2 linked regions of the Homo sapiens genome follow. The protein of the gene in region 1 purifies or fractionates together with the protein of each later gene. This does not show direct contact. Each region holds a gene or a part of one and is shown on either strand. Other genes may lie near its edges.

Region 1 (4,277 bases):
GCAGTGGTACAGTTTTCATGTCACAAAATTTTATTTCCTTGTTTACGAGTCTAATTGCACAACGTGGTTTCCCAATAATCATAGTAAAAAATAATAACTAGCCCTTATTTAACATTTACCATATGTCCTCTTGTAAGTTCTTAATATATATCCTATTCTACAAAATACAGTTCATTTATTAGGCAGCTTGGTCCTTTCATTGTGAGCTGAGGTGACACGCCTCAAATCCCACACTGGTTGGTGAGCCCAGGCAATCTGGCTCCAGAATCCTTGCTCTTAAACACTTGGCTACCCTGCTTCTCATAAAGCTCTCTGTTAATTTACGATGTTTAGAATCAGTCTATTTACCTTAAACAAGAAGGCACTGTAACAATTAGAAAATAGAATATAAATTATATAAAACTTGATAATGTAAAAGTCATAATAAACCAAAGTGAGACAGGAAGAAATTGTAATATTTTTCTTATCCTCTCTTATAGGAGTAACTTCCTAGAAAGTCAACAGTCAATTTTTAATACAAAACTGAAAATAATTCCTGCTTGGATAGTAAAGAAAAATATTTATCAAAAAAACTGAAAATAATAGTAAAAAAAAATCAGCAGGGAAGACAGAGAGTGAACTTGAGCTAAATTCCTCATATTTCATAACAAGTGTGATGGTTAATTTTATGAGCATCCAGTAGGTGTCAATATCTATTGCCTAATTTTAACTTTTAAAATTATATATAACTTATATGGTAACTATTAGAAAAATTAAAAACAAAAGTTTGTGGTACCTTAAGAAATAGCAACATAAGCAAACTATTAACGGCATAGGGAGGACTATCAGAAAAGCTAAATAACTAGGGAAAGGGAAGATCTTTGTTTCACACCATTTCCATTTTTATTACAATTATCAGATATTATTTTAAAAAATAATTCTACAATACTATGAAAAATAGTAATACTCTGTAAAGAAAGGATAAACTGAAGAGGGTATCTTTCAATTCTGTCATGGTAAAATAACAGACCAATAAATGCTACCAGACCATAAGCCCAGTGAGGTAGAGAAGGAGAACAAGGATAATATATAAACACATTCCACTCTAATCTTCTTTACTGATTCTTTGTTTCTACATCATTACAGGCTAAATGGCCCATTTTTTTTTTCATATAAACTTCTAAAGAGACATTCATTTCATTGACTTCAACTATTGAGTCACACCCACTCCAGTCTACAACCTTGCACATTTCCTTTAAAGAAAGGAGCTGTCTCAATTCAGACACTGTTGGCGGGAGCCGACATTAGATAATCACCCTTTTAGGGCATAATTTAGCAGTCTTTAATGAAGTGTTAAAAAAAATGACTGCATTTTGACCTAATAATTTCACTTCTTTGAATCCACTCTGCAGAAACACTCCCGAATGTTCAAAGATATCTGTAAAAGGAATTTCAATTAAGCCACTACTGTTTACGACAGAGGAAAACTGAAAAGAACCTAAATGCACATTGGTAGATGCAGAATAATTTGTTGCCATTTAAAATATACATCTACATGTAAAATACATATCTACGTGTAGTGACAGTGAAAGATGTCCCTAACATATTGTTAGGCAAGAAAAGCAAAAATTCAGAATTACTATACAATTTTTGTAAAAAAAAAAAGTATATGCATATATCACATACATAAATGTGTACAAGCAGTGTGCTTAAGATGTGTGGAGGAAACACTGTAAGTTTTCACTATGTACATTTCTTTATTATTATTTTACAACCAGCATGTATTGTTTTAGTATTTTAAGAAATCAGGTCATGTCTCAATTGTCATATATCTGGGATTAAAAAAGAAAAAAAAATCCAAAAAGGGAAATATTCAACGTTTTTCCATTAGTTCATTCTCAATATCTATGAAAAAAATCTAAGTAGCACATTGCTGTCTAGGATTAGCGAAAACGCTAGTTTCGTTGGTTGGATCGTTTTGGGTTTTTTTTAGTGAATTAGAGCAGGAAAATGAGGACACAAAACCCAACCAAGGCGGAGTTGGGCTGTTGAAGCCATCAGCGGCGCGCGGCCGGGCAGCCAAGGGACCCGCGAAGGGGGGGACTCGGAGGTCGAGGGGCACTCGGAGGGCGAAGGGAGCCCCGGGCGGGAGACGAAGGGCACTGGCCCGTGACGCAGGCGCGGTTGGAAAGAAGCTGAGGACTGGATGTGCGGAAACCAGGTCAGAGGGGCAGGCAACAGAGTGGGCGGGAAGGCGGCCGGGAGCGCTATACGGGTCTAGGGAATCAGTAGGAAGCCGGAGGCGCGGCTGGCGGCGACAGCGTGGCCGGCAGAGCAGGGTCAGCCCAGGTCGCCCGGGGAGTGCGCAGGGACGCGGGCAAAAAGCCCGGGACGCGCGCCGCCGGGGCCTGCGGGGCCTGCCCGAGGCCGAGGCCCCGGTTGGGGGTGCGGGCCGGAGCTCCCGCTCTGCGCCGGGGGCAGGCGTCTGCTGGCAATACCTTCCCAGGAGAGCTCTCCTCCCGGCTCCCGCTTCAGGAACTTGTACCAGAACGTGTCCACGCGGCCCGGCTCCGCCCCGTCCTGCGCCGCCTCCTCGGCCGCCAGCTCCACCTCCCCGAGCCACAGGCCCGGCTCCTGCAGGGCCAGGGCCCCGTCGCCCGCCGCGGTGCCGGCCGGCCTCAGGCGGACGGCACCGCGCGGCTCCCAACGCCCCAGCTCGGGCCGCGACCCCACCACCAGCAGCTCCGGCCGGGCGCCGGCCACGGCGGGTGGCACCACCACCCCAAAGCGGAAGCGCATGGCGGGCGGCGGCGGCGCGAATACCCGGGCCCGGAGTCCCCGCGGCCGGCAGGCGCGGCCCGAGCACTAGGCGGCCGCAGCGATTGGGCGGTGGTGTGGGAGCCCCGGGCACCGGGGAGAACACGTGCTGTTCTGCGCCTTCTTTGGGATGCATCACGCGGCTCCCGAGCCCAGACTTCGTCCAGGCCGGCGGGAAGGGGTCAGCGGAGCCGCTAGCTGCCTCTTTGTGCCCCGCAACCCCGCGGGCGGTTGATTTCCACCTGTGGGCGCTGGGGACACGCGACCGGAAGAAATGGAAGAGAAAACGGGGTTCGGGGAGGGAGGAAAACTTCTAAGCCAGGCGATCGTCCAGTTCTCTCTCCAAGAGACTGGAAATTAACTTTATGAGGATCATAAGGAAGGGAATGACCTCTAGACAGCCGCCTTCTAATTGTGAAACGGGGGAAGATCTTGGACCTGGTCTCTGGAGCGCTCCCTATCTTAACCAAGTCACTTACTCTAGCAGGTCTCAGGTTCTTTGTCTGTAAAATGAGGGTGTAAAATAATGATCTTTCTAGACCCTACGAGCTCTGAAGGATCTCTGATTGGTGGAGATCACCCAAGACCCGGAGCTGATGCAAAACATTACCTACCATTCCCTTGTCTGAAAAGCCACATCAACTTTCTTTTTTCAAAAACTATATTTTTAGTATGTGTAAAGTAAGTTTGGAGTAAATACTTTCAAGTCCTTTTCAAGGTCAAAACAAAAACTAATTCTGTGACTACAAATGTATGCTTTTTTTTTTTTTTTTGAGACAGAGTCTCGCTCTGTCCAAATGTATGCATTTTTAATGGAGTAAATTAAAAAAAAAAACCTTTGTTTAAAATTTACTTTCAGCAAAAGTCAGCATTATTTTTTCAACTTAAAACCTTTTTGGGTTTTAAGTTGAAACAGGTTTTTTAGCTGTCTGGCCCAAATCCAAAATACGTATATCTTGGTGGGGAACTTCAATTTGTCTCTGCCATAAGACAAACGAATGTCCTGATACTTTTTGATTCTTTAACAAAATTATCCTTGTATTCTTAGGTTTATATATTCACTAACATTTAACATAACACAAATCTGTTACGTGAATTAAAGACACACAAAGGCATTTTTACCAGTGTTTGGAAGTTTGTGAATAGTAAAGGGGAACAGGCCAAAATTTCATGCGTTGAGGATATAAGTAAAACAGAAAGTGCAAAAATGTAAACTACACAAACTCAATCTCTTGTGGAACAATTAGAAAACTAATAATACATTTTACTCTTGAATGTTGATATTCCACTCGAAGTTTGGTTGGTTGCTAAGCTTAAGGATAAACACTATGAAAAATGTGAAGACAGAAGGGCTGGCCAAACACAGCTGATTCGGCAGCAAATCACACATTAAATCACAGTGGCATGTGAGTCGGTTTATTCAAATTGCTGTTAAAAGATATTCTTAGAGTAAGTTTAGGAAAATAAGAGTCATTTGGCGA
Region 2 (4,184 bases), on another chromosome or scaffold:
GGGCACTGACTGGGGGGCAACTGACTGGGGGAACTGACTGGAGGGGGCACTGACTGGGTGGGTCACTGACTGGAGGGTTCACTGACTGGGGGGAACTGACTAGAGGATGCACTGACTGGGGGGAACTGACTGGAGGGGGGCACTGACTGGGGGGGAACTGACTGGAGGGGGCACTGACTGGGTGGGTCACTGACTGGAGGGTTCACTGACTGGGGGGAACTGACTAGAGGATGCACTGACTGGGGGGAACTGACTGGAGGGGGGCACTGACTGGGGGGGAACTGACTGGAGGGGGCACTGACTTGGGGGGCACTGACTGGGGGGAAACTGACTGGAGGGGGCACTGACTGGGGGGGGGAACTGACCGGGGGGGGGGAACTGACTGGAGGGGGCACTGACTAGGGGGGCACTGATGGGGGGAACTGACTGGAGGGGGCACTGACTGGAGGGAAACTGACTGGGGGGAAACTGACTGGGGGGGAACTGACTGGAGGGGGCACTGACTGGGGGGAAACTGACTGGAGGGGGCACTGACTGGAGGGGGCACTGACTGGGGGGCACTGACTGGAGGGAAACTGACTGGGGGAAAACTGACTGGGGGGAACTGACTGGAGGGGGCACTGACTGGGGGGAAACTGACTGGAGGGGGCACTGACTGGAGGGGGCACTGACTGGGGGGCACTGACTGGAGGGAAACTGACTGGGGGGAAACTGACTGGGGGGAACTGACTGGAGGGGGCACTGACTGGGGGAACTGACTAGAGGGTGTACTGACTGGGGGGGGGAACTGACTGGAGGGGGCACTGACTGGGGGGGGAACTGACTGGAGGGGGCACTGACTGGGGGAAACTGACTGGAGGAGGCACTGACTGGGGGGGAACTGACTGGAGGGGGCACTGACTGGGGGAACTGACTGGAGGGGGCACTGACTTGGGGGGGAACTGACTGGAGGGGGCACTGACTGGGGGGAATTGACTGGAGGGGGCACTGACTGGGGGGCACTGACTGGGGGGAAACTGACTGGGGGGGCACTGACTGGGGGGAACTGACTGGAGGGGGCACTGACTGGGGGAAACTGACTGGAGGAGGCACTGACTGGGGGAAACTGACTGGAGGAGGCACTGACTGGGGGAAACTGACTGGAGGAGGCACTGACTGGGGGGAAACTGACTAGAGGGGGCACTGACTGGGGGGGAACTGACTAGAGGGGGCACTGACTGGGGGGGAACTGACTAGAGGGGGCACTGACTGGGGGGGAACTGACTAGAGGGGGCACTGACTGGGGGGGAACTGACTAGAGGGGGCACTGACTGGGGGGGGAACTGACTGGAGGGGGCACTGACTGGGGGAAACTGACTGGAGGAGGCACTGACTGGGGGAAACTGACTGGAGGAGGCACTGACTGGGGGGGAACTGACTGGAGGGGGCACTGACTAGGGGGAATTGACTGGAGGGGGCACTGACTGGGGGGCACTGACTGGGGGGAAACTGACTGGGGGGGCACTGACTGGGGGGAACTGACTGGAGGGGGCACTGACTGGGGGAAACTGACTGGAGGAGGCACTGACTGGGGGGAATTGACTGGAGGGGGCACTGACTGGGGGGAATTGACTGGAGGGGGCACTGACTGGGGGGCACTGACTGGGGGGAAACTGACTGGGGGGGCACTGACTGGGGGGGAACTGACTGGAGGGGGCACTGACTGGGGGAACTGACTGAAGGGGGCACTGACTGGGGGGGGAACTGACTGGAGGGGGCACTGACTGGGGGGAATTGACTGGAGGGGGCACTGACTGGGGGGCACTGACTGGGGGGCACTGACTGGGGGGAAACTGACTGGGGGGGCACTGACTGGGGGGAACTGACTGGAGGGGGCACTGACTGGGGGAAACTGACTGGAGGAGGCACTGACTGGGGGAAACTGACTGGAGGAGGCACTGACTGGGGGAAACTGACTGGAGGAGGCACTGACTGGGGGGAAACTGACTAGAGGGGGCACTGACTGGGGGGGAACTGACTAGAGGGGGCACTGACTGGGGGGGAACTGACTAGAGGGGGCACTGACTGGGGGGGGAACTGACTGGAGGGGGCACTGACTGGGGGAAACTGACTGGAGGAGGCACTGACTGGGGGAAACTGACTGGAGGAGGCACTGACTGGGGGGGAACTGACTGGAGGGGGCACTGACTGGGGGGAAACTGACTGGAGGGGGCACTGACTGGGGGGGAACTGACTGGAGGGGGCACTGACTGGGGGGCACTGACTGGGGGGAAACTGACTGGGGGGAAACTGACTGGGGGGGAACTGACTGGGGGGGAACTGACTGGAGGGGGCACTGACTGGGGGAACTGACTAGAGGGTGCACTAACTGGGGGGGAACTGACTGGAGGGGGCACTGACTGACTTGGGGGGGGCACTGACTCCGGGGGCACCGACTGGGGGGAACTGACTGGAGGGGGAACTGACTGACTGGGGGATAACTATCTGGAGGGGGCACTGACTGACTCGGGGAGAAGTGACTTGGGGGGCACTGGCAGACTGGGGGCCGGGTCTGAGCGGCGGGCGGCCGCACTCACCTGCCCTGCGGGCCGGGCGTCGCGGCAGCTCTTCGGAGGCCCGTGTGGAGGCCCGAGCGGAGGCCAGGGCGCTGGTGGAGGCAAAGCCCGGGCGGCCTCGGGCGGGCCGCACACACATGGGCCCGGCCGAGGGCGCAGCGCCTACGGACACCGGCACGGCCGGCCGGCGGCTCGAGACCGACTCGGGGCCGCGGGCGGCACTCCGATCGCTCCAAAATGGCGGCGGCGGCGCACGGGCACGCGCTCCGGGGGCGGGGTCTCCGCTTGGGGCGCGCACGCTCGCGGCCGGGGGCGGGGCCGCGCGGGTGGGCGGGGCCGGGACCTGGGCCGGCTCTCCGGGCCCCCTGGAGTGGGGCACTCGGTGAAACCCGCGTGGGAGCACGAGGGCTTGGGTGTGCTGACTGCTGCCTTGGAGTGGGTGGGGTAAGAGTGCGTCTTTCCCCTTTTACGTTTCCCTTTGAGGTATTGGCTAAAGTTTTGTGCAAGCATAGTTAATTTTGTTGTAGCCACAAAACAATCCTCGCGTGGCCCGACGCAGCATTTGAGAGACACACACCTGGGGCAGGGGTTTCCCCCGTGGCCCAGGAAAGGGCCTGTTCTCCCGGGCCTCCCTCCTGCCACAGGCCCCTCCCAGAGGCCGCGGGGCGTGGACGCCCCGAGCAGCAGGAGCGGGCTCAGCCCCGGGCGCCAGGCCTGGCCCCTCCCCGTCCCGCGTCCTGCCTGGACCCGGAGTGCCTGAGCCGCCTCCAGACAGTTTTCTCCAGGTGCGCTACGGGTTCTTGCACGGCGTTTTGCAAATTAAGTATGTGCCTATTTAACAAGTGCTGGAATTGTTTAATTCCATCAAAATAATTTCAAAAATGATTACTATTATTTCAGATGTTAGAGCGAGCCGTGGGTAAATGTTGGGAAAACATGGAGCACTTAAGGGATCTCTAAACGTTTTTTCCAGTTGTCAGTGTATTGCCCAGGATTCACCGATGCTCTCTGCGAAAGCGTATCTGGGCGGCTCAAATATTCGGTATTTCTCTTTTGCCAGCTGGCGCTGTTAGGCTTTGTCGGTAGAGGGCGCCAGAGACGTTGCAGGAGAAAAGGGCTTGGCCCTGCGGCTGGCGGCCCCGGGCTTCCCCGACGCCTGTCCCCTGCCCTGGTCAGCAGCACCCTCCTCGCCGGTTTTATAGCAGATGCCTCTGGCGAGCCTTTCCCCAGCAAAAGCTTTTCCCCTAGCATCCTAAGGGGCAGATTTCTGGCAGGTTCCGTTGAGGGAACTTCCAGGAAGTGGGGGTGAAAAAGCCTCAGCCTCACAACCTAGAGAAGAGACACCCTGCGTTCAGCAGGCTATGCCCTTCTCCTGCCCTCACCATGGTCTCCTTTGCAGGAGCGGGAGGTGCTGCTGAGTTGAGCTACGGAATGGGGACTGGGGCCAGGGGCACCAGATGCAGGAGATGCTCCTGCTGCCGTGAGCACGTGCAACTCTGCCTGATCTTGATACCCCTCCTGTGCTCAGCCAGTGCAACTGGGGTGAGCAGGAGCCCCTCTCCTCCTCTTTTTTTTTTTTGAGACGGAGTCTCGCTCTGTCGCCCAGGCTGGAGTGCAGTGGCGCGATCT

What was found. Proteins that work in one complex are often made in the same cells at the same time.
Region 2: the proteins of EPM2A (region 1) and PPP6R2 purify together in Homo sapiens (affinity purification with mass spectrometry, with the first as the bait; one large-scale study listed by BioGRID). This does not show direct contact.

Annotation. Positions count from the first base shown.
Region 1 is NC_000006.12:145,732,721-145,736,997, forward strand, and holds the start of EPM2A (laforin), read right to left. Parts: upstream 2,801-4,277; 5' UTR 2,779-2,800; coding exon 2,478-2,778; intron 2,201-2,477; exon of another isoform or gene 2,149-2,200; intron 1-2,148. UniProt on the Homo sapiens protein: Plays an important role in preventing glycogen hyperphosphorylation and the formation of insoluble aggregates, via its activity as glycogen phosphatase, and by promoting the ubiquitination of proteins involved in glycogen metabolism via its interaction with the E3 ubiquitin ligase NHLRC1/malin.
Region 2 is NC_000022.11:50,341,943-50,346,126, reverse strand, and holds the start of PPP6R2 (serine/threonine-protein phosphatase 6 regulatory subunit 2), read right to left. Parts: upstream 2,801-4,184; 5' UTR 2,577-2,800; intron 1-2,576. UniProt on the Homo sapiens protein: Regulatory subunit of protein phosphatase 6 (PP6). May function as a scaffolding PP6 subunit. Involved in the PP6-mediated dephosphorylation of NFKBIE opposing its degradation in response to TNF-alpha.